Regions from separate parts of the Homo sapiens genome. Here region 1 is linked to region 2. Evidence: fine-mapped expression QTL. A gene starts in region 2. The other region holds a variant in brackets. All regions are shown on one strand. Distances are from middle to middle.

Region 1 (15,323 bases), 97 kb before region 2:
ATTAATAAACAGTGGTTTTGATTTCTTTGGCTATTAATACATAAGTTCAAAGATATTTAATTTTGAAATTTAATTTTCTGTTATAATTTGATAATAGGAAGGGATTCATATTGCTAAAATTTGGGGCATTTTTATATTGCTGACATTGAATTGTTAGCATATCTTGATACTATCACTTTGTGTCACTATATAATTGCCAATGAGCAATATTGAACATTTGGGGGCCTCAGAGTTAATTTAACTAGTATACTTACTCTTCTAACCCTTTTCAGTCATTGAGGGTATCTAAATTGCCAAACCTGTTCCAAAGGATGAAATCCAAAGGAAGCAGTGGTTGATATTGGGAGCACAAGCTTTATGGAAATGCAGCAGTACAGTCCTGATAAACTGTTCATCTAGTCCTTCCAGGGGAGCCAGGAGTGAAGGGAACATAAATCTGGAGAGTGTTGGGGGAGACTGCCATTCCTCTTGTCTTGTGTTTCCATGAGACGACCACCAGTGTAGCCTCCATTCCCTCCCCAGTCCCCATGTAAGTAGTCACTCTGAGGGTGGAAGGGTCTTCTCTCACTGGCGGGTTAGGTTGAAGAAATGGATTAAGCCTGGCTCAGCCCTTCCTGGGCTTCCTCCTTCCAACTGCCTGCCCACTGAGAAGGCACATTCTCTCTGTTCCTGGGCCCACCCCTGCTCTTCCAGTTGTTGTGCTCTGCTTGTAAGAGGATAGGTGAGTTTACTCCACAGAATTAGTATTAGGAAGCCAATTGTGACATCCAAGCTACACTCTCCAAAACAGCTTTTACCAAAAACACTGAGCTACTATTTTCATTGCTATTGGACTTTTATTCCTTATTTCTCAAGTAGTTCCAGATTTATGAATGAAGTTGTTTATTGGCCCCCAAAAGTCCCAACAATGTGCTCAACTGGCTCTGGTCAGCATGTGTGGAGCTAGTTGCTAGTTCTCCTCTTTCCTCTCCTTCATGACCTTAAGAGAGTTTCTTCAGGTAAAGAATTCTACAGAAAACAGATGGTCCATTCAGCCAGTTGCCCCTTCAACCTGACTTCTCTGCTGTTCCTTTGTAAGGAGCCAGCCCCTACCTCCCATTGACCTGATGTAAGGATCATCTTTATTTTATTTCCTATTAAGCTGATACATTTTTAAAGATCTCATGGCAGATGAAGAACAAGAGCATAGGTATACTTTATCAAAAACTACATCCTCAGGGTGCAATGGCTCATGCCTGTGATCCTAGGATTTTGCGAGGCCAAGGTGGAAGGATTGCTTGAGGGCAGGAGTTCGAGATCAGCTTGGGCAACATGGTAAGACCCCCATCTCTACAAAAAAATGAAAAATAATGGTTGGGTATGGTTGGCAGGCACCTGTGGTCTTGGCTACTTAAGAGGCTGAGATGGGAGGATCGCTTGAGCCTGGGAGGTTGAGGCTGCTGTGAGCTGTGGTCATGCCACTGCACTCTGGCCTGGGTGACAGAGCAAGATCCTGTCTCAAAAAAAAATTACCTCCTCAAAATTCTCTAAAGACACCTATTCAGGTGCAGACAGTATATATCAGGACATGGACTATGGAAAACATTCTAAGGACAGGGAATCTCCAGATATTATTGCCTCTCATTAAAAAACAATGAGGCCAGGTGTGGTGGCTCACACCTGTAATCACGCCTGTAATCCCAGCTACTTGGGAGGCCAAGGCAGGAGAATCACTTGAACCCGGGGGGCAGAGGTTGCAGTGAGCCAAGATCACACCATTGCACTCCAGCCTGGGCAACCAATAAGAGAGAAACTCCGTCTCAAAAATAAATAAATAAAAATAAAAACCCCATTGTCTCAGCCCAAAATCTCCTTAAGCTGATAAGCAACTTCAGCAAAGTTTCAGGATACAAAATCAATGTACAAAAATCACAAGCATTCTTATACACCAATAACAGACAAACAGAGAGCCAAATCATGAGTGAACTCCCATTCACAATTGCTTCAAAGAGAATAAAATACCTAGGAATCCAACTTACAAGGGACGTGAAGGATCTCTTCAAGGAGAACTACAAACCACTGCTCAATGAAATAAAAGAGGATACAAACAAATGGAAGAACATTCCATGCTCATGGGTAGGAAGAATCAATATCATGAAAATGGCCATACTGCCCAAGGTAATTTATAGATTCAATGCCATCCCCATCAAGCTACCAATGACTTTCTTCACAGAATTGGAAAAAACTACTTTAAAGTTCATATGGAACCAAAAAAGAGCCCGCATCGCCAAGTCAATCCTAAGCCAAAAGAACAAAGCTGGAGGCATCACATTACCTGACTTCAAACTATACTACAAGGCTACAGTAACCAAAACAGCATGGTACTGGTACCAAAACAGAGATATAGATCAATGGAACAGAACAGAGCCCTCAGAAATAATGCCACGTATCTACAACTATCTGATTTTTGACAAACCTGAGAAAAACAAGCAATGGGGAAAAGATTCCCTATTTAATAAATGGTGCTGGGAAAACTGGCTAGCCATATGTAGAAAGCTGAAACTGGATCCCTTCCTTACACCTTATACAAAAATTAATTCAAGATGGATTAAAGACTTAAACGTTAGACCTAAAACCACAAAAACCCTAGAAGAAAACCTATGCATTACCATTAAGGACATAGGCATGAGCAAGGACTTCATGTCTAAAACACCAAAAGCAATGGCAACAAAAGCCAAAATTGACAAATGGGATCTAATTAAACTAAAGAGCTTCTGCACCGCAAAAGAAACTACCATCAGAGTGAACAGGCAACCTACAAAATGGGAGAAAATTTTCGCAACCTACTCATGTGACAAAGGGCTAATATCCAGAATCTACAAAAAACTCTAACAAATTTACAAGAAAAAAACAACCCCATCAAAAAGTGGGCGAAGGACATGAACAGACACTTCTCAAAAGAAGACATTTATGCAGCCAAAAAACACATGAAAAAATGCTCACCATCACTGGCCATCAGAGAAATGCAAATCAAAACCACAATGAGATACCATCTCACACCAGTTAGAATGGCAATCATTAAAAAGTCAGGAAACAACAGGTGCTGGAGAGGATGTGGAGATAGGAACACTTTTACACTGTTGGTGGGACTGTAAACTAGTTCAACCCTTGTGGAAGTCAGCATGGTGATTCCTCAGGGATCTAGAACTAGAAATACCATTTGACCCAGCCATCCCATTACTGGGTATATACCCAAAGGACTATAAATCATGCTGCTATAAAGACACATGCACACGTATGTTTATTGCGGCACTATTCACAATAGCAAAGACTTGGAACCAACCCAAATGTCCAACAATGATAGACTGGATTAAGAAAATGTGGCACATGTACACCATGGAATACTATACAGCCATAAAAAATGATGAGTTCATGTCCTTTGTAGGGACATGAATGAAATTGGAAACCATCATTCTCAGTAAACTATCGCAAGAACAAAAAACCAAACACCGCATATTCTCACTCATAGGTGGGAATTGAACAATGAGAATACATGGACACAGGAAGGGGAACATCACATTCTGGGGACTGTTGGGGGGAGCGGGAAGGGATAGCTTTAGGAGATATACCTAATGCTAGATGACGAGTTAATGGGTGCAGCACACCAGCACGACACATGTATACATATGTAACTAACCTGCACATTGTGCACATGTACCCTAAAACTTAAAGTATAATAATAATAAAATAAAATAAAATAAAAATAAAAATAAAAAAAGAAAAATTGGTGTATTTCATAATCATCAGAGACAGTTGTACACAATGTTTTCAAAAAGCCACAATGACTATTGTCTCCATCAAAAGAACAAGAAAGAGGCAAAAAATTAGAAATATAATGTCTCCATCTTGTAAACAGCTAGCCAATAAGAAAACCAAAATAATAAGCTTACTTTCACCCTACCTTCCTGAAAAATCAAGCTTCTCAGCAAAGAAAATGGGGAGTATCATTATTCACTAGACAGGACTGCAGGAAAATATTCAAGAGGCAAACTATCTGTTGACAGAAGAGAGGTGCAGTAATACAAAGTCCAGCTCTAACATCAACTTTGGGTTAGCCATAAAACGGTTGATGCCTCAGTTTCTTCATCTGTATCTTGGAAATTACAGTCTAGTATATGAGCCACATTTGCATTATTTCAATGAGCTACATATTGACATTGCATTACCATTAAAGCAGTTTAAAATATGTAGTTTTAAAAGTACAAGTAATGGCCTGCTACAAAATGCCATCTTGAGCACTGAAAGATGGGGAAGCTAACATTTACAAGAGCCTTCTTAAAAATCTGGCTGGGCGCGGTGGCTCATGCCTGTAATCCCAGCACTTTGGGAGGCCGAGGTGGGTGGATCACGAAGTCAGGAGATCGAGACCATCCTGGCTAACACAGTGAAACCCCATCTCTACTAAAAATACAAAAAATTAGCCAGGCATGGTGGCGGGTGCCTGTAGTCCCAGCTACTGGGGAGGCTGAGGCAGGAGAATGGTGTGAACCCGGGAGGCAGAGTTTACAGTGAGCCAAGATCGTGCCACTGCACTCCAGCCTGGGCAACAGAGGAAGACTCTGTCTAAAAATAAATAAATAAATAAATAACACATAGGCTGGGCGTGTTGGCTCATGCCCATGATCCCGGTACTTTGGGAGGCCGAGACAGGTGGATCACCTGAGGTCAGGAGTTTGAGACCAGCCTAGCCAACATGAAACCCCATCTCTACTAAAAAACACAAAAATTAGCCAGGCGTGGTGGCGGGCGCCTGTAATCCCAGCTACTCAGAAGGCTGAGGCAGGAGAATGGTTTAAACCTAGGAGGTAGAGGTTGCAGTGAGCTGAGATCATGCCATTGCACTCCAACCTAGGTGACAAGAGCAAAACTCCGTCTCAAAAATAAATAAATAAAACACACCATGAAGGTGTTGTTATTTGTCAAAAGAAAAACAGATTCTTATGGCTCACTGCAGCCTTGATAAGAAGGTGCATCTGTCCTCAGGCTCAGGTGATCCTCCCACCTCAGCTTCCCAAGTAGCTGGAACTATAGGCACGCACCACCACATCTGGCTAATTTTTCTTATTTTTGTAGAGGTGAGTCCTCGCTATGTTGCCGAGGCTGGTCTCAAACTCCTGGGCTCAAGCAATCCACCCACTTCAGCCTCCCAAAGTGCTGGGATTACAGGTGTGAGCCACCGCCCCTGGCTGTAGAGTGATTCTTTAAAATAGGTGTAATGATACCTAAGATGAGGCTCAAAGTGCTTAAGTATCTTTTCCAGTGTCAGAACCAGTGGATGAGGGAGGACGTTCCAGAACATGTATTTTTCTTTTTTTAAGTTAATTTATTGTGTAGTTATTTATTTACTTTTAGAAACAGGGACTTGGGGGCCGGGCGCGGTGGCTCACGCCTGTAATCCCAGCACTTTGGGAGGCCGAGGCGTGTGGATCACGAGGTCAGGAGATCGAGACCATCCTGGCTAACATGGTGAAACCCCGTCTCTACTAAAAATACAAAAAATTAGCCGGGTGTGGTGGCGGGTGCCTGTAGTCCCAGCTACTCGGGAGGCTGAGGCAGGAGAATGGCGTGAACCCAGGAGGCGGAGCTTGCAGTGAGCCAAGATCGCGCCACTGCACTCCAGCCTGGACGACAGAGTGAGACTCCATCTCAAAAAAAAAAAGAAAAGAAAAGAAAAGGAAAGAAACAGGGACTTGGTCTGTCACCCAGGTTGGAGTGTAATGGCATGCTATCATAGCTCTTTGCAACCTCAAACTCCTGGGTCCAAGCTATCCTCCTGTCTTGGCCTCCCAAAGTGCTGGGATTACAGGCATGAACATTGTGCCCAGCTGAAATATATATTTTTGTTACTGGTCTATGCTCCTTCTGGTTCATCCCACAAGAGATGCCACTAACCCATCATCAAAACAACACATGTTTTGTACGGTTTGTAGAAATAGTGATGGATCTGCTGTAACCATATATATGATTAACAATAATAAGAGTCTTGGCAAGGATAAGGTGGCCTGCCAGTTTGTGGATGTGAAATAGAGCAGAGACCTTGTCTGCCAAGGGATCTTACTAATATTTCATTAGTTCCTCTTCCCTTCAGCCCTTGGACAATCACTACCAGCCACCACCACCACCACCAATGTTACCATTTATTGAGTGTTCAGTGTATTCCAAGTACTGTGTTGAGTACTTTACACAAATAATATAATTTCATTCTTGCAACATCTCTAAGAGACAGATATTACCAGATTTACAGATGAAGAAACTGAGGTTTAGAAAGTTTAAGTGACTTTTTGGAGGTCATCTAGCTACTGGAATTAGGATTCAACTTATGGTATGTTCATTTGCACATTTTAATATGCCCTTTTGTGATTATTGCCAAATAACTTTCCACAGTCCATAACTGTTTTCCTCTCTGAGGGGAGCCAAGTAGAGTAGAGTCTTTAATTAAGGGCCTGGACTCAAAGTTTTAATTTCTTTGTACCCTACTATTAACTAGCTGTATGATTGTGGAATTTGTCTGAACCTGTTTTCCTTGTCTAAACAATGGAAATAAATAGCAAGTATTCTCTCTAGCTAATTATTTTGTACAGTTCTTCAAATGTATGTGATATGATGCTGTTAATTATTCTCTCTATACTCTGACAAAGACTGACAATGCACAGATGTCAATATAAACTCATTTTTCATTAAAATTTACCTGATATCAGTCATAGCAGCCTCTGCACATTGGAAAAAAAAATTACTAAGAACAAAGAGATGGTCTCTTTAACTTCTTTTTTCTTCAGTTGAATTTGGTTTCACAAATGTGAAATAGCACCTATTTTTCTATCTTCCTTTAATCTTTCTTATTTACTCCCCGTAACTAATCCAGACCCCTTCACGGGACAACAAGAGAAGTAAGAGGTTAGGTAAGCTGTCAGGAACGTAGCAAAAGAGCTGTGAGGGAATTTATTAGGTCTCTACCATGGGACAGATACTGTGATCTGTGGTGTGTGCATTCTTATCACCGAATCCTCATGTGGAAGTTAATTGATCAACAGCTGTGACAGTGCTTGGAAAACAATGGTTACTGTCAGATATAGACAAAATGCAAAGTAAAGCTGGTGGGAATTAAGCATCATGTTTCTTTAAATTATTTAATAATTATCACAAATTCCCAATCATTACCATTCTGCCTCCGATCTAGAAAGGGAACTCAGGTAACCTATGCCTAGAAAACCTTCCCTTTTCTAGTTTGAAAAGCCACCTTCAGGCCGGGCACGGTGGCTCATGCCTGTAATCCCAGCACTTTGGGAGGCCGAGGCGGGCAGATCATGAGGTCAGGAGATCGAGACCATCCTGGCTAACACGGTGAAACTCCGTCTCTACTAAAAATACAAAAAATTAGCCGGGTGTGGTGGCACAAGCCTGTAATCCCACCTACTCGGGAGGCTGAGGCAGGAGCAGGAGAATTGCTTGGACCAGGGAGGCAGAGGTTATCGTGAGCCCGAGACTGTGCCACTGCACTCCAGACTGGGTGACAGAGTGAGACTCCGTCTCAAAAAAAAAAGAAAAAGAAAAGAAAGAAAGAAAAGCTACCTTCAATTATGCAGCTTCTCAAATTTTATTTTATTTTATTTTATTTTATTTTATTTTATTTTATTTTATTTTATTTTATTTTTGAGACTGAGTCTTGCTCTGTTGCCCAGGCTGGAGTGCAGTGGCCCGATCTCGGCTCACTGCAAGCTCCACCTCCTGGGTTCACACCATTCTCTTGCCTCAGCCTCCCGAGTAGCTGGGACTACAGGCGCCTGCCACCACGCCCGGCTAATTTTTTGTATATTTAGTAGAGATGGGGTTTCACCGTGTTAGGCAGGATGGTCTCGATCTCCTGACCTCATGATCTGCCCGCCTCAGCCTCCCAAAGTGCTGGGATTACAGGCGTGAGCCACCGCGCCCGGCCTCAAATTTTATTTACTCCATAGTATTTGCTACTGGTAGAGAGACAGCAAATTCCCCTTTGCCTCTCCTAAAATTCTTGGCCTTGCCTACTCTGCTTGTCACTGAATAAAATTTCCTCTATGACAAAAGGAAACCTGACTTGTTTCAGCGGCTACAGGACTGTCCACGTGAAAAGCCCATGTCAGGCTATAGTACTGAGTCTTAACTAGAAGCTTGCATGAGCAACTAATCAGCAGTGTGTTAAAACCTTCTGCAACAATACACTTTGCTGGATGCTGTGCTGTCACTGCCTCTAGCGAGTTGGTTGGAGAAACATAATGCCAGAACCGTGATTATGAGAAACAGAAGGAGAGAGAGAGAAAGCAAGCACAATTTGGAATCAAAACAAAACTTAGCCGGGCACAGTGGTTCACACCTGTAATCCCAGCACTTTGGGAGGCTGAGGCGGGTGGATCACTTGAGGCCAGGAGTTCAAGACCAGCCTGGCCAACATGGTGACACCCCATTTCTACTAAAAATACAAAAATTAGCTGGGCATAGTGGCGCACGCCTGTAATCCCAGTTACTTGGGAGGCCGAGGCACGAGAATTGCTTGAACCGAGGAGGCAGAGGTTGCAGTGAGCCAAAGATCATACCACTGCACTCTAGCCTGGGCAACAGAGTGAGACTCCATCTCAAAAAAAAAAAAAAAAAAAAAAAACTTAAATTCAAAGGAAAGGCATTTTTTTAAGAAAAAAATACTTTAAAATAATTAACAGATATTTCTGATATAAATGTATCATTTGTACATGATATAAATGGCAGGCCCCGTCTATCCCAGACAGAAAAAGACGCAAAATAGAGCAGAAGCCATCCTACTAGAAAAGTGAGCTGTACAAGGTCACCTTTAGGTTAAAATAAAGGCCACTGTACAGCAAGGTTATTCGTACAGTACAAGGCAAGGGCATGGAGGGTTTTAGTAGCTTGATTCTAAAGAAACTTCAGGTCTGAAAAAATAACTAAAAATAAGACTTAAACATGAAAGATAACAAGAAAATCAAGGAAAATCAAATAAAGTAAGCAAGGAATAGGAAAACGTATAAACGTTAACAAAAGGAGTCCCTAAGCCTAGAGAAAGAAACTGGCTCGTGACAAGTATCTCCTGCGATCTGGACCTACATGTTGTTTCCACCCCTTCAACCTTTCCCCTACTCCCTTCCCCGAAACACATGCACACACAAAGCCATCGACCATTGTGGACTTTAACCCTATTTTGTTTGTTTGTCTTTTACTTAATGCTCGTATTTTTTACTTTTTTCACTTTGCCTCTCACTTTAGCCAAAAATACTGGCTCTACCATCACCTGAACTTCCTCACACCTTTTAGAGTCAGGGGTGACCTCCCACCGGCTAGATCTGGATCTAAGACTTCCAAGTTTTCTCATCTCAGCTAAATCTTCCAGACATTCTTTTCTCGCAGGTTTTAAAAATTTTCTGGTTCTGTATGTCTGATTCTCCAGTATAACTTTTTTCATGAATCCCAGGGATATTTAAAGTCTTACCTATATATAGTTTGTTCTATTATATTTAATTTAAAGTTAGTGGTCTTGATTTTTTTTACTTTCCATGATCTCAAACATCAAATATTATGAATTCAATTTCTACACCAGATAGATAAGCAGAACAAGTAAAAGATCCACAAAACCTGGGGGAGACTGAAGGCTTGTTAAGCAAAATCTCTAGTTAGAGATTCCACAAAAGAAGTGATACATTACTGGATTCTGATCATGAAGCCAGGCGGTACCAGGAGTTGTTTTATAGGCACTGCCATGTGCTATAAGCTAGGGTTCTAGACTTACAGAAATTCTTTATCCTAAGTTTAGGTTGAATCTTTTGAAATCAAGAGTCTTTCCCTCTCATAGTTTATAACTCCTTTTATAAATATGGATGGATTAATCATATTTGTTCTTAAAATGTGAGCCAATTGATATCAGGTTAATGTCAATTTATGACGTTC[G/T]TCTGATGCAATATTTATTCTTTTCTTTAAACCAATTTAGATGATGGGAAGAATACCAAAATGTATGGTTCAGAAAAGGTGATACATAACTGCAGACATAAATGCTAACAAGCCAAACAGCTGTCCTAAAGGAATTTGGCAAGTTTAAACACTAAAATTTCTTTTCTTTTTCTTTTTTCTTCTTTTTTAGTGACAGGGTCTCACTCTGTCACCCTGGCTGAAGTGCAGTGGTGTGATCATAGCTCACTGCAGCCTCAAACTTCTGGGCTCAAGTGATCCTCCTGCCTCAGTCTCCTCAAGTCTAGGATTACAGGCATGAGCTGCTGTACACAGCCTAAAATTTCTAATAGAAGAATTTAACAACACCAAAAGCTGCCAAAATAATAATGGTAACATAGAACATGGATCTTAAAGCGTGAGTCACACGTGTATTGTACCTATCACTTATTTAAACTAGAACACTATATAGCATCAAATACTTCAAAACAAGCTAGATACTCTAGAATTAAGCCAGCAGAAACCCATATGGCTGGACCAGACACTGGGGCACACACCTATAATCCCAGTGCTTTGGGAGGCCAAGCAGGTGGATCACTTGAGCTCAAGAGTTCGAGACCAGCCTGGCCAACATGGCGAAACCCTGTCTCTACTAAAAATAAAAATTAAAAAAAAAAAAAAGAAGAAAAGAAAAAAAAGAAACCCATATGGTTGGAGTGAAACATTTGTCTTAAGCCTCTTGTTATCTCAGCATGAACATACACATTGGAAAATACCACTTCCCAAACAAAAGCTTAACTAAGACCTATCCAGTAATAATTCAATTTTATAAAAATAGAACTATGGTGTGTACCAAGTTTCATACTGGTCAGAGTCAGACCGTTTACCTAAATTGCTTTTGTTATGTGCAGGTAAATGTTGTATGTCAAGAATGAAGGCAAAATCAGAACTGTTATGTGACAATCAAAAATATAATGGTAATGTCAACACTAATCATTTGAAATCATCTCTCTTGCCTTAAATTTATACCTAGCAATAAAAAATATATATTTGTCTTATATGAAATATGTGAATTTCATGATCTGGAAGCTCTAGTAGTAATTTTCACGATGATTGGTGTAGCCATAGCATAGGGTCTCAAGTTAACAATGAATTTTCCTTTACAAAAGATGAGGCCCAAATTCAGTGATTCATTAACTCAAATAAAAATCTAGACTCTAGTTTCTAATTTATTTTTATGTTTACCACATCCTACAGATACTCTCATAACATATGTTCTACCAACAGGAAAATCGACACAGAGGTAGGATAAAGGACCGGCTCCAACTGACGTAATTTATCATAGTAGCAAAGACAGGGAATCAAATAAAAAATGCAACTTAGCCTCTGAGGTCCCCATACTCAGTTATATAATGGCCCAGCTACTGAGAGAAAACTCTTCAGCATCAAATAAGGAAATATTTGAAATTTTTAAAAATTCATATGAGCTATTAGAATTAAATACCGGATTGCCATGTAGTTTAAAGGCTTGCATTGTGATTTCGAAAATAATTTATATTTATCAAGTGCCTACTAAATACTAAATAAGTTACTTAGCATTTCTCTCAGTCCTTATTAACTCCATATTACAGGTAGAGAAACATGCTAGGTGAAGTAAGTTGACTATTGCCCTGTGCTGGAACCATAATTTGAATCTATTCATGCTATATGACTTCTTTTATAAAAGCACTAAAAATTTCTCTTCTGTAAGAACTTTCTGATACATATATACTTACAAACACCTCTTGTGGCAATAAATTAAAGAAACATGATTCCATCTTAAAAAAAAAGCATCTTATAGATATATTGTTCTCTTCCAAGATTTAATTCCATTCTTTTGACAGATAATCTAATAAGTTTGGTACTCACACTTAAGTCTCTCCTAAAGATTCACATGTAAATTGTCCTGTTTCTCAAACAGAACAGACGTATGCAATAAATAAGTGCAAATTTTCCTTTCAAAAACTAGCCCATTTACTGGACTATCTTCTTTATTTTTTCTCTCGCCATTTTACATACCATTCCTCAAATATATTCCTAACAGTTAATCAGCGTACCTGATTGTCTGATACTGTGCTCTTTGTAAGTTGGTTATGTAGCCCAGTACTTTTAAACATATTTTATGGAGACATTAACTTTTTTTTAAATTCAAACATAGCCATGTCACATATGGGTAAACAACAGTGAATCACTTAAAGAAGACTGCCACATCCACCGTCTTTCCAATCGCTCTCTCTGTGGCTACGATTAGTGCCTTTACTTCCTCTCTGCGTGCCTGAAGACACTTTTTCATTCCCTGTGAGTAAAAATTCGAGAAGTCCTCCCAACATTGAAGCAAACTGCTGCTACCCTACTCACAAGGAACCTCAAACTAAAGGCAACTCTTCTGAGAAAGGTCGATTGTAAAATCACAGGGACAAAAGGCTGACCCAAAGACTCGGGCCCCTTTGGATAGCACCACAAAGGCCCCCTCAGACAGCACCTGCCAGGACTCTCACCAAATTTACTGCCACCCTCTGAGTAGCTATTTACCTGCTTCCATGTCTCCCTGGGGCTTGGGTGCTGCGCAGTAACAGCAGTCCAAGAAGATGACATAGTTAAGAACATTGAAGAACAGACCGATAATTCCAGCACTGAGAACCAGTATCGGCTCCTCTGTCTTCTGGGGATTGATGTACCTTTTGATGGCTTCAACCAGGATGCTGAACATCAGCGCCACCGCAAAAATGGTGTTCCCAAATGCTCCCACAACATCTGCCCGAAGAAAGCCGTAAGTGCTCTTCTTGTGCTGTTTTATGTTACTGGCCCTTACACCAAAAAAACCTATGATCATGGACACAAAGTGGGAAAGGACGGCAAAAGCATCGGAGGCCAAGGAGAGGGAGTTGCCAACGTAAGCGATCACTAGTTCCATCACAAAGAGGAGGATGCTAACGACGCACATGAGGATTAAACGGAAGCTTCTTCCGGAGTATCGCCCCATGGCGTCTCGGTGCCCTGGCAGTTCCTCTCCCTTTCTTGGGAAGGCTGAGCTGCTAGGGAAGCAGCTATAGATTCAGTGATTACAACTCCTGGGTAACTCTTCCCTTCAGCCCTCCGGCGCTTGTCATATTTGGAAATCACCTTTTATAGGTTGCTATAAAGCCATAAAACAGTTTAAAGGGCAATTAAGCAAGAGATGTCACATGAGCCAGGATTTATGGAAATACAAGACACTGGCTTCAGATATGGACTTGAGAGACTGTTTTGTTTGTGCATGTGTGTGTTTAATTACAGACGTCAAGAGCTTCTGTGTCCTTGAGTCATGTAGAAGCTCATCAGTGGCGGTGGCCTTTCCAGCTTCCATGCTCCGTGTGTGCAGAAACAGCTCAGGTGAAGCAAGTCATTTGACATAAGCAATTACATCTTGTCCACCTGGTGTGCAGTTCTGAATGTCATTTACTGTGTGAAGTAGGGAATATTCGAGGGGTCACCCTACTTCCAAACATTCTCTATAAGACAAAAGAAATATTCCTCATATTCAGGAAATCTTTAAACTGGAAGAGCTGAAGACATAATTCCAGTTAGTTTCCAGGAAGACAGACAGGTAATAATGATTTCACTGATGCAAGGAAGTTTTTGTTTTTATTTTTAAAAAATGTTATCTGTCAAACACTCATAGCCCTTAAAGGCCTATCAGTTCCAAAATGACTGAAACAGCAGTGGCCTCTATTGTGAGCAGCCTGACTACTGTCAATATTTTAAAGAAACACAGAGTGATATTACAATCTCTATTTCTCCCAGATGTGATGTTAATTTTGTATGTCAACTTGACTGGTCATTTGGTCAATGACATGCAAGACTTTCTGGCTTTGTCTGTGAGTGTGTTTCTGGATGAAATTAACAGTTGGATCAGCAGAGTGAATGAAGGAGATTGCCCTCACTAATGTGGGTGGGCCTCCTCCAATCAGTTGAAGCCTGAGGAGAACAAAAATGCTGAATAAGAGGTAGCTCTTCCTGCCTGACTGCCTTCAGCCTGGGACGTTTGTTTTTTCCTGCCTTCAGACTCAAACTGAAACATGGACTCTTCCTGGGTCTTGAGCGTGTGGGTCTTTGATTTGGGCTACACCATCGGCTCTCCTGGGTCTCTTGCCTACTGATTCACCATCAATCTTGGGACTTCTTAGTCTTTTAATCATGTGAAATAATTCTTTATAATACATTTCTTTATATATATATATAAACATATATATAAATATATATAAACATATATATAAATATATATAAATATATATATAAATATATATAAATATATAAATATATAAATATATATGAATATATAAATATATATAAATATATATGAATATATAAATATATATATAAATATATATAAATATATATATAAATATATATAAATATATATAAATATATATAAATATATATAAATAAATATATAAATATATATAAATATATAAATATATATATAAATATGTAAATAAATATATATAAATATATAAATATATATAAATATATATAAATATATATAGAAATATATATAGAAATATATATAAATATATATAGAAATATATAGAAATATATATAGAAATATATATAAATATATATAAATATAGAAATATATATAAATATATATAAATATATATAGAAATATATAATATATATAAATATATATAAATATATAAATATATATATAAATATATATATAAATATATATAAATATATATAAATATATATAAATATATATAAATATATATATTAATATATAAATCTATATTAATATATATTAATATATAAATCTATATTAATATATATTAATATATATATTAATATATATTAATATATAAATATATATATTAATATATAAATATATATAAATATATATGTAAATATATATATAAATATATATAAATATATATATAAATACATATAAATATATATATAAATATATATAAATATATATATAAATATATATAAATATATATATAAATATATATAAATATATATAATATATAAATATATATATATATAAAAAACTATCTGTGTACCATGCATACACATTCTCATTGGTTCTGTTTCTCTGGAGAACACTGGCTAATAGTCTGACTTTGACTAAAACCTGATAATTTAGACAGTAGCCCTAACAGCTTCCATAGTATCTCATAAATTATCTCCAATTCAGTTAATATTCTGACAGACTTCCAATACAACCATATTGTGAAAATTATTGCTCTAAGACTAGCTCTTTCATCCATTCATGCCACAAATACTTACTGAGTGCCGACATGCTGGACAGAGTTCTAGGCTCCAGAGAGACAGCAGCCAAC
Region 2 (15,222 bases):
AGAGATCGAGACCATCCTGGACAACATGGTGAAACTCCGTCTCTACTAAAAATACAAAAAATTAGCTGGGCGTGGTGGCATGCGCCTATAGTCCCAGCTACTCGGGAGGCTGAGGCAGGAGGATCACATGAAACTGGGAGGCAGAGGTTTCAGTGAGCCAAGATCGCACCACTGCACTCCAGCCTGGTGACAGGGTGAGACTCCATCTCAAAAAACAAACAAACAAAAAACAACATCAACAACAACAAAAGTAAACTACTGTCATAGACAAAAAGATATATGAATTTCAGAAGTATTATCCTAGGCACATATGAGAATATAAGAATATATATAATATGATTCAATGTATATGAAATTATAGAAAAAGCAAAAAAGTGACAAAAAGAAGATGAGTCGCTATTAGGTGCTAGGAGTAGGGAAAGGAATGACTGCAAAGGGGCGTGAGAGGACTTTCTGAAGTAATGGAAATACTCTACATGATGACTGTGGTGTAGATTACACACTTGTCACATTTGTCACATTGTACACATTTGTCAATCACTTAAAATTGGTGAACAATTGTATACAAGTTATAATTCAATAAAACTAATTTTTAAAAACAAAATAATTTTAAATAGAAAATGAAAATAATACAAATTGTAACTTCTTGAGTATTTTTGCTATGATTTTTTTAAATGGGAAAAAGAGAAAGCTCTCCTCACAGAAAAATGCCAACTAATACATACAGAAGGAATGGTAGAATGGGAAAGTCACTATCTCGCAAACATCATAAAATCATAAAAATCAAGTTAGGCAGGAAGTATCAATGGATACTGAAACTAGTGGGTGAAGATCTGATGCAAAGTGGAACATTTACATGATTCCAATGCATCTGCCCATTAAAATTAAGGTTAGAATAATCAGTAATGGGAAAATTAAATTCATGCACCAACTGATGGGCTGCAATGAAGAACAAGGAATAACTACGCTATTCCTGCCAAAAACAAAGAGCCTGAATCTAGACACCAGGAAATATCAGACAACTTAAACAGAGGATATTCTTCAAGTTAAGTGGCCTGTTATCTTCAGAAAGGTCAAAGCTATGAAAGCCAAGGGAAGACTAGGAAACCATTCCAGACTGAAAGAAACTGGAGAGAGGTGACAATCAGATGCAAACAAAGCATAATACGGGATTTTGATCTCAACACTATGGAGGGTCTGGTTGTAACAAATAATGATAGAACAAGGATGGGGTCTGTGCATTAGATGGAAGCATTGTATCCAAGTGTATTTCCTGATTTGGGTGCTTGTGTGAGATCACCTGGAGTTTCCAAGTTTGTTGGGGATGTACACTGGAGTTATGCTGAGATACTGAAGCCTCATATCTACAGTATGCTCTTGGGTGGTATGGGGGAAAAAGGTCTTTATTTTAAGTTTGAAATTAACATTAAATATATAACATGATGAATGCATACAAAATAGGAAAATTCTAGCAATGCAACTATTATTTTAAAATGTTTCATCTAATTATATTACTTAAAGATAAAATGTAATTGAATTAAACTGGGAATAATTAAATCAAAAATTAAAAAGGGAGAGGAGCAATTAGAAAAATGATATATTTGATAACTGGCATACAGTTCAAAATGACAAGAGTTTCACAGAATACTGGCAGAATTCTGAGTTCTGTAATACACTACAGAAACAGGCCACCTTCAGGGTGATTTTCTAAGTAACAAAAAATGTATCAGGAGGCTGGGCATGGTGGCTCACACCTGTGGTCCTGGCACTTTGGGAGGCCAAGGCGGGCGGACTGCTTGAGGTCAGGAGTTTGAGACCAGCCTGGCCAACATGGCAAAATGCTGTGTCTACTAAAAAATACAAAAATTAGGCGGGCATGGTGGTGCGCACCTCTAAGCGCAACTACTCGTGTGGCTGAGAACAAGAATTGCTTGATCCTGGGAGGCAGAGGTTGCAATGAGCTCGGTCTCCAAAAAAAAAAAAAAAAAAAAAAAAAAAAAAAACAGTATCAGGAGCTTTAACTATAGTCTCACTTAACTCTGGCAACCAATCCTATCTGGAAGACATTATTCTCCCTTTCTTAAAACAAGGAAACTATGGGAGAAGCTAAATAAGGAACTTGTCAAGGTTTCACAACTAGTAAGTGGCAGCCAGGATTGGACTCAGGTCTGCAGAAACCAAATGTCTTTGCTCTCAATCATGAAGGCACTCTAATGCCTTTCCAGCTCAGGAATCAAACCCATTCCTTTTAGAGTTCATTGATTTGTTGTGCGGTTAGTCCATTACTGCAACCAATATGCCAAAACATTACCATCTTTTAAATGTTTAAAATGGCTATTAAGTTGTGTTTTTGTTCAACAACCTTAAAACATCACCAAAGTTGAGAATATAATGAATAATTTCATCAGCCCCACGTGGTCAACTGTATATAAAGGTATGGGCTTCTTCAACATTAGAAAGTACTGTGTGTGTATTATCATACATATGCATTAACAAATATTAGGTCAGGCTGGGTACTGTGGCTCACGCCTGTAATCCTAGTACTTTGGGAGGCCAAGTCAGGATGGCTTGAGCCCAGGAGTTTGAGACCTGCCTGGGCAACACAGTGAAACGCCATCTTTCCAAAAAAGACACAAACACAAAATTAGCCAGGCATGGTGGCACGCGCCTGTAGTCCCAGCTACTAAGGAGGCTGAGGTGGGAGGATCATCTGAGCCCGGAAGTTCGATGCTGCAGTGAGCCTTGAAAGCGCCACTGCACTCCAGCCTGGACGATAGAGCAAGACCCTGACTCTCAAAAGAAAAAAAAAAATCGGCAAACTACTTAAATTCTTCTGTGTAATTTCCCAAAGTAATGAAAAAGCAGAAATTCTAAGCAATCTACCAACAATAATCTTGGTCATGTCGAAAAAATAATTCCAAACAGAACTTAAGATGTGTCAGTAAGGTGACAGATCCAATGTTTACTCTGAAATTTACTACACATCCACAGGGTGCAGTAAAAGCAACCGCATCAGTCTACAGTGTACCTGGGTGTTTTCCCCAATTACCCTACCACATTTAATTAAAAATAAATGCAGCCTCAGTTGAAATCCTAAATGCTAATATGCTCGTCTGGGTTATTTCTTCTGAACTCGATAAAACGTAAGGAAAATTTGACTCAAGTGAACTGAGGATTTCTCCTGAGAGGAGGGACAGGACAGGAAAGGAGGTAAGAAAAGGAGTTGGGGGAAAAATGCTAAAAGAGAAGCGACGACTATTGGATTTTAAGTTTTAAAATCTTATTTCCACGAGCAACTCTCGCTCTCCGGGGGAAAAAGGGAGAGGTGAGTTGACTGGGAGTTCATCCCTCTGAGAAAAAGATCCGAAGCGGAGTCTCGTGTTGTCTAGCCCGGGCTCACACTGCGCCTCCCTCCATGCCCGGGAAAACCATCTTCAGGAGCAGATGCACCTGCCGGGGACACGGGGCGAGGGGTGCGGAGCCTCCTCCACGTACAATTCTGGGGCGAGGGGCAGGTCCAACATCCCAGATGGTGACCACCACTGCGCAAAGCCGGGGCGCAGCGACCTTCCACGCCCTGCACCCTCCCTGGCTGATGCAACCCACACAGGTCATTGGTCTCGGCCCCTTACCTAGCGGAGGGTCTCCTGAATTCACGGTCAGAGAGAGCGTCGCCATCTCCACCAGTCCGCTGGTCCACCTGTCAGTACGCCTGGCTCGTGCCAGAACTACGGAGGACCCCGCGAAAGGAAGAAGATGCAACGTGTGCGCGTACCCGACGCCGCCGCAGCCTTCGCTCCGCCCCTGCGCCGCAGCTACTGCCGACACCGCGCACGCCGCGGTGCGACATCGTCGCGCGCCGTCTTCGTCCCCGCCCGCAGGTTCCAGAGCCTGCTACCCCTCCTCTTGGCCGCCAGGGTTAGAACGGCCTGCGTGGCCTTTCGTGCTGCGGTGGGAAAGACGCTGAAGTGGACGGGACTTTACGACACTTCGTCAAGTCAGCAGGTCGTAAAACAGCAGGTTGTAAAACCATCTTTAAGATGGGATAGGCGTTTATGTGAAGCACGAAACAAAAGCATGCACTGTCTTTATGTAAAAAGAAAAGTCCTGGAAGCATACACACGATAGCCATGATTACGTTGGGAATGGGAGAAGTTTTTCTCGTTGTTTATTTTATACATTCCCCCCCGTTTTTTTTTTTCCAAAACAAGAACGTATTTTCAAGAGTTATTTGCGTGTTGAAAATAATGGTTAAAGGAAATATAAAAGACTCTTTAAAAATCACTGCAGGCCGGGCGTGGTGGCTCACGCCTGTAATCTCAGCACTTTAGAAGGTGTAGGCGGGCGGATCACCTGAGGTCAGGAGTTCGAGACCAGTCTGGCCAGCATGGTGAAACCCCATCTCTACTAAAAATACAAAAATTAGCCTGGCATGGTGGTGGGCCCCTGTAATCCCAGCTACTTGGGAGGCTGAGGCAGGAGAATCGCTTGAACCTGGGAGGTGGAGGTTGCAGTGAGCCGAGATCGTGCTACTGCATCCAGCCTGGGCGACAGAGTGAGACTCCTTCTCGAAAAGAAAAAAAAAAAAAATCACAGCAGAGGCCGGGCGCGGTGGCTCAGGCCTGTAATCCCAGCACTTTGGGAGGCCGGAGGCGAGCGGATCTCGAGGTCAGGAGTTGGAGACCAGCTTCACCAACATGGTGAAACTGTAGAGACGGGGGTCTCTACTAAAAGTACAAAAATTAGCCGGGAATGGTAGCGCGCACCTTTAATCCTAGCTACTTGGGGAGCTGAGGCAGGAGAATCGCTTGAACCCGGGAGGAGGAGGTTGCGGTGAGCCGAGATCGCGGCACTGCACTCCAGCCTGGGCGACAGACTGAGACCCCGTTTCAAAACAAACAAAAAATCACTGCAGATAGGCGCAGTGGCGCGCTCCTGTAGTCTCAGCTATTAAGAAGGCTGAGGCAGGATCGCCTGAGCCCAGGAAGATGAGGCTGTAGTGGCCTCGCCGTGGACTTGCCTGTGAGTAGCCACTACCCTCCAGCCTGGCCGACACAGGGAGAGACCTGATCTAAAAAACAAAACAAAAAAACCCTCCGATGCCGCCCCCAATCATGGAGTCCACAGGTGTTTTTTTCAGCGTCTCATCTGATTCTCCCTTTCAAATCCTTTGTGACGGACGTGCATGCATGAGCTCCAGAGATACTCCAAGGTGTATACACACATTCGTGTGTGTGAGCTGCACCCATATTTCAAGGGCTGGTGTTAAAGTACGGGGACCCGGGATGGATTCCAAGAACCATCTCAACCACATCCTCGCCTACACTTTTTCTTAACCTCCCCAAGACATCCTTGTTTTCATTAGGGAGGGCCCCTTAGATTACATCTCCCATGAGACTTGAGGCCAGGCGCGGTGGCTCATGCCTGTAATCCCAGCACTTTGGGAAGCTGAGGCGGGCGGATCACCTAAGGTCGAGAGTTTGAGACCAGCCAAGCCAACATGGAGAAACCCCATCTCTAGTAAAAATACAAAAAAATAGCTGGGTGTGGTGGTGCATGCCTGTAATCCCAGCTACTCGGGAGGCTGACGCCAGAGAATCGCTTGAACCTGGGAGGCAGAGGTTTCGGTGAGCTGACATCACGCCATTGCACTCCAGCCTGGGTAACAGGAGCAAAACTTCATCTCAATAAAAAAAAAAAAAAAAAAAAAGAAGCCTACTTTCAGGATAGTGGGACTTATAGCAGAAAGTCTTAGGTCTTAGAGTTACCATCTTGTTGGATGCTTTTACTAGTTCCAATCATTTTTTAGTTATGTTGGATTTTCTAGGTAAATATCATTTTCTTCCTATCCAAAATTTACATGACCTATATCTTATCTCTTTCATTGGCTAGAACTTCCAGAATGATGTTAAATGGGAGCAATAATAGTGTCGAATAAGAGAGTATTTGCTTTGTTCCTGACTTTAGTGGGAATGCCGCTAATGTTGCATTATCAAGAATAGTGTCTGTGGCCGGGCACGGTGGCTCGCACCCGTAATCCCAGCACTTGGGAGGCCGAGGTGGGTGGATCACCTAAGTAGAGGACTTCGAGACCAGCCTGATCAACATGGTGAAACCCTGTCTCTACTAAAAATACAAAATTAGCTGGGCGTGGTGGTGCATGCCTGTAATCCCAGCTACTCAGGAGGCTGAGGCAGGAGAATCGCATGAACCTGGGAGCTGGAGGTTGCAGTGAGCAGAGATCATGCCACTGTACTCCAGCCCGGGGCAACAAGAGCAAAAAGTCCGTCTCAAAAAAAAAAATGTTAAAGAATAGTGTCTGTAAGCCAGGTGTAATGGCTCATACCTGTAATCCCAACACTTTGGGAGGCTGAGGTAGGCAGAACACCTGAGGTCCGGAGTTCGAGACTAGCCTGGTGAATATGGTGAAACCGCGTCATTTTACTAAAAATACAAAATTAGCCTGGAGTAGTGGTGCATGCCTGTAGTCCCAGCTACTTGGCAGTCTGAGGCAGGAGAATCACTGGAACCCAGGAGGCAGAGGTTGCAGTGAGCCTAGATGGCACCATTGCACTCCAGCCTGGGCAATAAGAGCAAAACTTTGTCTCAAAAAAAAAAAAAAAAGAATAGTGTCTGCTAGGTTGGCTGCAATGGCTCTTGCTGGTAATGTCAGCACTTTGGCAGGCCCAGATGGGAGGATCACCTGAGACCAGGAGTTTGAAGGTACAGTGAGCTATGATCGCGCCACCGCACTATAGCCTGGATGACAGAACAAGACCCTTTCCCTGAAAATAAAAATAAAAAAAGAATAGTGTTTGCCGCTGGTTTCTTATATATTCTTAGGTTAACAGGGTTTTTTTTTTTCTTTTTGAGACAGAGTTTCGCTCTCGTTGCCCAGGCTAGAGTGCAACGGCATGATATTGGCTCACTGTAGCCTCCGACACCTGGGTTCAAGTGATTCTCCTGCCTCAGCCTCCAAAGTAGCTGGGATTACAGGCACCTGCCACCACGCCCAGCTAATTTTTGTATTTTTAGCAGAGATGGGGTTTCATCATGTTGGCTAGGCTTATCTCGAACTCCTGACCTGAGGTGGTCTGCCCGCCTCGGCCTCCAAAGTGCTGGGATTACAGGCCTGAGCCACCGTGCCCAGCCCTGGATTCTTTTTAAAATCAAGAATGGGTATTGGATTTTCACTCCTTATTATTGTGTACATAAACAGGAGATACAGAGATGAAAGGTGAAGTCCCTGTCCTCAAGAAGCCTTTTTTTTTTTTTTGAGATAGAGTCTCATTTTGTTGCCCAGGCTAGAGTGCACTGGCATGATCTGGGCTCACTGCAACCTCCGCCTCCCTGGTTCAAGCAATTCTCTTGCCTTTGCCTCCTGAGTAGCTGGGATTACAGGTGTGTGCCACCATGCCCAGCTAATTTTTGTATTTTTAGTAGAGACGGGATTTCACCATGTTGCCCAGGCTGGTCTCAAACTCCCAACCTCAGGTGTTCTACCTGCCTCAGCCTCCCAAAGTGCTGGGATTCTGTGCTGGGATTACAGGTGTGAACCACCACGCCCAAACTTTTTTTTTTTTTTTTTTAGACAGAGCAGGCTGTAGTCCAGTGGCACGATTATAGCTCACTGCAGTCTCAATCTCCTGGGCTCAAGCGATCTTCCCACCTCAGCCCCCCAAGTAGCTAGAACTACAGGCATGCTCACCATGCCTAGCTAATTTTTTATTTTCTGTAGGTATGGGGTCTGTGTTGCCCAGGTTGGTCTTGAACTCCTGGACTCAAGCAATACTCCTCCCTCAACTGCTCAAAGTAGTGGGATTACAGGCATGAGCCACCGTGCCTGACCAAGAAGGCTACAGACTTTGGGAGGCCGAGGTGGGTGGATCACCTGAGGTTGGGAGTTGGAGACCAGCCTGGCCAACATGGTGAAATCCTGTCTCTACTAAAAATAGAAAAATTAGCCTGGCGGGCATGGTGGCACACACCTGTAATTCCAGCTACTGGGGAGGCTGAGGCAGGAGAATCGCTTGAACTCAGGAGGTGGAGGTTGCAGTGAGCTGAGATTGCGCCACTGCACTCCAGCCTGGGCAACAGAGCAAGACTGTGTCTAAAAAACAAAACAAAACAAAACAAAAACACAAGGTAAATAAAAATTGCTACACAGTGAGATATATGTAGCAATAGAAATATGTTCATATTAAAAACATTTTGGGGCCGGGGTGCAGTAACTCACACCTGTAATCCCAGCACTTTGGAAGGCTGAGGCGGGTGGGTCACTTGAGGTCAGGAGTTTGAGACCAGCCTGGCTAATATGGTGAAACCCCATCTCTACAAAAAATACAAAAATTAGCTGGGCTTGGTGGCACATGCCTGTAATCCCAGCTACTCTGGAGGCTGAGGCAGGAGAATTGCTTGAGCCCAGGAGGCAGAGGTTGCAGTGAGCCGATATCGCATCACTACACTCCAGCCTGGGTGACAGAGTGAGATGTGAGACTCTGTCTAAAAAAAAAAAAAAATTGAAATGAGAGTAAAAATAATAAACTTTGCAGAAAGTACAAAGATAGCTCAGAAGATGGAAGATGATTATCCATGTTGAGTGAGGAAGGAAAGACAGAATGGTAAAGGAAAGCTTTGGCTAAAAGATGGCATATTTGGCTGGGCACAGTAATATACCTGTAATCCTGTATGCCTGTAATTACACCTGTAATCCTAGCACTGTGGGAAACCGAGGTGGGAGGATCACTTGAGGCCAGAAGTTTGAGATCAGCCTAGGTAACATAGCAAGGCCCTGTCTCCACAAAGAAAAAAAAAAAATTAGTTGGGTGTGGTGGTTTATGCCTGTAGTCCCAGCTACGTGGGAGATTGAGGCAGGAGGGTCACTTGAGTCCACTTGAGGAGTTTAAGGTTGCAGTGAGCTATGATCATGCCATTGTATTCAATCCTTGGCAACAGAGCAAGACCCTGTCCCCCCCCTCAAAAAAAGTATATTTAAGGAGTGGGGGAAAAAAGGGGGTAAAAGAAGAATATGAGCTAAAACCTGAAGTCATGAAGCTGTGTGTACTTGGAAAACTCTGACCAGTTCGTTATTGCCAGAATATAAAATCTTTTGGAAGTAAGGGACTAAAAGGCTGGAATGTAGGCAGACTAAATTAGGAAGAGTTCTATATATCATGCTGAGGAGCAAGATTTTATCTTATGATAGAAAGTCGGTGAAAAGTTTTAGGCAGGAGCAGGAGATGTGATTAGGATCATATTTTACAAGGATGACTTCGACAATAATATAGGAGATGACTTGGAGTGCGCAGAACTGGCATTAGGGAAACCAGTTAAGATGTTATTACAACAGTCCATATGAGAGAAAATAAAAGATGATGGCCTGAACTAAGGCAGTGGAATAAGATCTGAGAATAGAGAACAAGTTTCAGATATATTTAGGAGGTAAAATCAGTAATGACAGACGAGATGTTTGGGGAGGTGATGGTGAAAGAAGCAATTTTTTAATTTTTTTTCTTTTTGATACAGTCTCCCTCTGTCACCCAGGCTGAAGTGCAGAGGCACAATCTCAGCTCGCTGCAACCTCCACCTCCCAGGTTCAAGCACTTCTCATCCCTCAGCCTCCCAAGTAGCTGGGAGTACAGGCGTGTGCCACCACATCCAGCTAATTTTTCTGTATTTTTGGTAGAGATGGGGTTTCGCCATGTTGGCCAAGCTGGTCTCAAACTCTTGGCCTCAAGTGATCTGCCATCCTCAGCCTCCCAAATTGCTGGGATTACACTGCACCCGGCCGAGAAGCAAATTTGCCTAGGTTTATTCCTAGATTTCAGCTGGATAAATGGGTGGATGGTTATGTCATTATCAAAGGAGGGAAGACAAGAGAGGAAACAGAGTTGGCAAATTATTTGGTTCTAGACTGATTTTTTGAGATGTCTGTAAGATATGTAGGTGAAAATATCCTTTACAAATTGCAGATTTGTATAATATTTGTATTATATTTGTATAATTTGTATAATATATAATTTGTATATATTTGTATAATATTTGTAATATATTTGTATAATAATATAATAAAATCTGGGGCTCAGTTGAAATGTTTTGCTGAAGGTGTGAGTAGTTATTAAAATGGATGAGATAAGCCTGGAGAAGAAGATACAGAGCTATGCTATACAGTGTGGTAGGCACTAGACACATACGACCATTTTCTTTTTTCTTTTTCTTTTTTTTTGAGATGGAGTCTCACTCTGTCGCCCAGGCTGGAGTGCAGTGGCGCAATCCCAGCACACTGCAACCTCCGCCTCCCGGGTTCAAGCGATTCTCCTGCCTCAGCCTTCTTAGTAGCTGGGATTAAAGGCACATAGCACCACGCCCAGCTAATTTTTGTATTTTAGTAGAGACAGGATTTCACCATGTTGGCCAGGCTGGTCTTGAACTCCTGACCTCAGGTGATCCACCTGCCTTGGCCTCCCAAAGTGCTGGGATTACAGGCGTGAGCCACCATGCCTGGCCTCATTTTATTTTTTCTAACAGCGTCATTGAGATATAATTCACATACCATAAAATTCACCTATTTAAAGTGTATAATTCAGAGTTCAATCATCACCACAATTACTTCTAGAACATTTTATCATCCCCTAAAGAAACTTTGTACCCTTTGGCAGTCACTTCCCATTTCCCCTCAATCCTTGAAATATTTTTTAAAAATGTTTAAGGATGTAGATGACTTGACCCCTACCTGCATCCCCAATCTCATTTCTTTTTTATAATTTTTAATACCCAAGTTCTGCCTCAGGATCTATCCCAACCTCATTTTATAACACTCTGCCCCTTGTTCATTTTACTTCAGCCACTGTGGCTTCCTTTAAGTTCTTTTTCTTTGTCTTCTCAGAGATGTTGTTTGCTTGCTATATACACTAGAAATCTCAGCTCTTAGTGTGCCTGACCAGACATCATCTCCACGGAAAACATACTCCTATTTTTATGTACAGAAGATCCTCTTTCAACCCTCCAACCCTACCCCAGTTGCTTTCTAGCTCATCTTCCTGATTTCATTTATAGCATTTACCACAATCTAAAATTTTATTTACTTATTATCTGTCTTGTTTCACAAGAACACATGCTCAACAAAGGAACAGACTTATGGTCACTGTTACATCCACTGTTGAATGTTCAGTACCTGGCTGGGCAAGGTGGATCACACCTGTAATCCCAGCACTTTGGGAGGCCGAGGCGGGTGGATCACCTGAGGTCAGGAGTTCGAGACCAGCCTGGCCAACATGGTGAAACCCCAACTCTACTAAAAATTCAAAAAATTAGCCAGGCGTTGTGGCGGGCACCTGTAATCCCAGCTACTTGGGAGGCTGAGGCAGGAGAATCGCTTGAACCTGGGAGGCAGAAGTTGCAGTGAGCCTGGGCAACAAGAATGAAACTCTGTCTCAAAAAAAAAAAAAAGAAAGAATGTTCAGTACCTATGTTCAGTGCCTAACACATAGTAGGTGCTCAATAAATATTTGTTCAATGAATGGAGGCCATGCTAAGAGAAAAGATAGTGTTTTAGGGGAACTTTAAATGGTTGAGCATGGCTACAGTATAGGTTAGGGTCAGAGTTGATGCTGGAGAAGGAAGAAGCCATTAAGAGCTTCATATATCATTATAAGGAGTTTGCATTTTATCCTGAAGGCAAAGGAAAGCCATAAAATATTTTGAGTAAGGGGAATGGCATTACATTTGATTTTAAAAAATCACTTTGGGCCCGGTGTGGTAACTCACGCTTGTAAAATCACAGCGTTTTGGGAAGCTGAGGTGGGCGAATCCCTTGAGACCAGGATTTTGAGACCAGCTTGTGCAACATGGTGAAACCCCATCTCTACAAAAAATATACAAAAATGAGTCAGGCGTTTTTTTTTTTTTTTTTTTTTTGAGATGGAGTCTTTCTTTGTCACCCAGGTTGGAGTGCAGTGGCATGATCTTGGCTCACTGCAACCTCCATCTCCTGGGTTCATGCAATTCTCCTGCCTCAGCCTCCCAAGTAGCTGGGATTACAGGCATGTGCCACCATGCCTGGCTAATTTTTGTATTTTTAGGAGAGACAGGGTTTCACCATATTGGTCAGGCTGGTCTTGAACTCCTGACCTCAAGTGATCCACCCACCTCAGCCTCCCAAAGTGCTGGGATTACAGGCGTGAGACACCACGCCCGGCTTAGCCAGGCGTTACTGTGCAAACCTGTAGTCTCAGCTACTTGGGGGGGCTGAGGCAGGAGAATTGCTTAAGCCCAGGAGGTCAAGGCTGCAGTGAGCTATAAGCACACCACTGCACTCCAGCCTGGGTGACAGAGCGAGACCCTGTCTCAAAAACAAAACAAAACAAAAAAATCACTCTGGAGATGACGTGATAAATGGATGAGAGAGAGATAGATGGGTTACAGTGTAGGCAGAAAGATTAGTCAAGACACTGCAGGGATCTAGGGAAGAAATAACGGGGTATAAGGGTATAAACTAATGTAATTAATGTAGAGTCAAGAGTAATGGAGAGAGGATTTAGACTCCTACATATCTCACTTACATAAATTGGGTTTTCGTATAGGAACCTGAAGAAAATACCTTCAAAGTTATTTTCGGCCGGGTGTGGTGGCTCACACCTGTAATCCCAGCACTTTGGGAGGCTGAGGAAGGTGGATCACCTGAGGTCAGGAGTTCAAGACCAGCCTGGCCAACATGGTGAAACCCCTGTCTCTACTAAAGATACAAAAAATTAGCCAGGTGTGGTGGTGTGCCCCTGCTACTCGGGAGGCTGAAGCAGGAGAACCACTTGAACCCGGGAGGCAGAGGTTGTAGTGAGCTGAAATCATGCCATTGCACTCCAGCCTGGGTGACAGAGTGAGACTCCATCTCAAAAAAAAAAAAAAAAAAAAAAAAGTTATTATCTTAGGGCTGGGCGCAGTGGCTCACACCTATAATCCCAACACTTTGGGAGGCCAAGGCAGGCGGATCACCTGAGGTCAGGAGTTCGAGACCAGCCTGGCCAACATGGTGAAACCCCATCTTTACTAAAAATACAAAAATTACCTGGGCGTGGTGGCACATGCCTGTAATCCCAGCTACTCAGGAGGCTGAGGCAGGAGAATCGCTTGAACCCGTGAGGCGGAGGCTGCAGTGAGCCAAGATTGCGCCCCTGCACTCCAGCCTGGCGACAGAGCGAGACTCCGTCTCAAGAAATATATAAATAAATAAAAATAAAGTTATTCTCTTGTTACACTTAGATTTTTTAAAAATTAGGTTTAGTCCACTATTTACAGATAGAGAACTCCATTCGTAGAGGGAAGCAGGTGGATTCAGGTGATGATTTTCTAACTTGGCCAATTATCAAGATCACCTCATGGGTTTGTAAAATAATTTCTGGAGGGGTCGGGGCAAGAGTGAAGAACTGTTTAGACATAATCATTCAGACATCTCTGTAAGGCATCTAGGTAGGTTTTGGGGTATATAGATCTAGAGTTTGAGAGTTCTAAGCTAAAGATTTTGGATTAATGAGCAAAAGCGCCACAAAAGTCACACAGGTGGATTAGATCCTCTGGTGAGAAAGGAGAGAAAGCATAGTCCAGGTGCAGTGGCTCACACCTATAATCCCAGCACATTGGGAGACAGAGGCAGGAGGATTGCTTGAGGCTAGGAGTTCAAGACCAGCCTGGGCTGTATAGCAAGACCCCATCTCTACCAAAAAAAGAAAAAAAAGAAAGGAGAGAGACTAGAACAGAATCTTGGTAAACAGTGACATTTAAGGGAAGGAAGACAAAGAGAAAGCAATAAAGGAGACTGAGTAGGAGTGGCTAGGTGAAAAAAGAAAGCCAGGACAATGAGAAGAGACTTACAGGAGGGAGGGCTCAAAGGTGTCAAGACCACAGAGACCTCTTCCTGCTAGATTATGACACTTCTATAAAATAATACTATATTACCTTATCTAGTGAGTCCTAGAGTTAAATGATTATCAGTCCCTGAATTTCTTAAAATATACAGAAGCAGGCTGAGCGTGGTGGCTCACATTTGTAATCCCAGGACTTTGGGAGGCCAAGGTGGGCAGATTATGAGGTCAGAAGATCGAGACCATCCTGGCTAACACAGCGAAACCCCGTCTCTACTAAAAATACAAAAAATTAGCCAGGGGTGGTGGCATGTGCCTGTAGTCCCAGCTACTCAGGAGGCTGAGGCAGGAGAATCGCTTGAGCCCGGGAGGTGGAGGTTGCAGTGAGCCGAGATTGCACCACTGCACTCTGGCCTGGGTGACAGAGAGTGACTCTGTCTCAAAATAAATAAATAAATAAGTAAATAAACACACACACACACACACACACACACACACACACACAAGCAAAATCGTTGGGATAAACCCTGTGAATTTTTATTTTTATTGTTTGAGACAGAGTCTCGCTTTGTTGCCCAGGCTGGAGTGCAGTGGCACGATCTCAGCTCACTGCAACCTCTGCCTCCCAGGTTCAAGTGATCCTCCTGCCTCAGCCCCCTGGTAGCTGGGATTACAGGCACACACCACCATGCCCGGCTAATTTTCGTATTTTTAGGAGAGACAGGGTTTCGCCATGTTGGCCAGGCTGGTCTCGAACTCCTGACCTCAGGCGATCCACCCGCCTCGGCCTCCCAAAGTGCTGTGATTACAGGCATGAGCCACTGCGCCTGGCCTGTGAATCTGCATTTTAAAAGAATCTTCCTAGGTGATTCTGATATGCAGTTGAGTTTGGGAACTGTTAATTTAAACCACTTGTTGATTTGAAAACAGATAATTTTAATTAAAAGCAATGGACAGAGACCTAAAAATAAAAATCTAGGTATATTAGCAGAATAATTTTAATAGTTTATGTTATAATCTCTCATTGGAAGGAATAGAAGCAAGTACTTAGCTTTCCACAATTAAGCCTTATAATGATGCCACAAGAATAAACTAATCCCCAAAGTCGAGAATGTATAATTTTCAAACACTTTTTTAAAAAGCTGGTGAATAACAAAGAGCTAGGATTAAATAATTTATTTAAAAAAAACTTTTCTCATAAATCTGTTTCATAAGCATATATAATAACATCATATATATTCTTAATTGGAGTAGAAACGTTTTTAAAATTACTGTGAAAAACAAGAGTGAGATTCCAGAAAAAATTGTGCCCTAAAGAAATCTGGTTTAGGCCAGGTGCGGTGGCTCACACCTGTAATCCCAGCAC

Alleles and levels. Positions count from the first base shown, and alleles are read on the strand shown. Sizes are in standard deviations (SD) of each study's normalised expression.
With allele T in place of G in region 1, the expression in fibroblasts of the gene that starts at base 3,795 in region 2 is lower (small effect, 0.15 SD a copy in GTEx).

What was found. PIP is the estimated chance that this variant, and not a neighbour inherited with it, causes the effect. A credible set is the group of variants that fine-mapping cannot tell apart.
Region 1: its variant is the best candidate, but not a certain one, in a credible set for the expression of EPRS1 in fibroblasts (GTEx, PIP 0.73).

Annotation. Positions count from the first base shown.
Region 1 is chr1:219,946,034-219,961,356 of GRCh38, forward strand. It overlaps a transcript of SLC30A10 not described here. Among named protein-coding and RNA genes, the nearest start is that of SLC30A10, 25 kb to the left of the region's middle. The variant G/T (reference allele first, on the strand shown) is at 9,967.
Region 2 is chr1:220,042,711-220,057,932 of GRCh38, forward strand. It overlaps EPRS1 (glutamyl-prolyl-tRNA synthetase 1), which reads right to left and starts at 3,795. Exons shown (of 32, transcript NM_004446.3): 1 at 3,633-3,795. The coding sequence starts at 3,678. It overlaps BPNT1 (3'(2'), 5'-bisphosphate nucleotidase 1), which reads right to left. Exons shown (of 9, transcript NM_006085.6): 9 at 14,772-15,222. RefSeq lists enhancers at 2,948-3,505, 3,547-3,876, 3,937-4,006.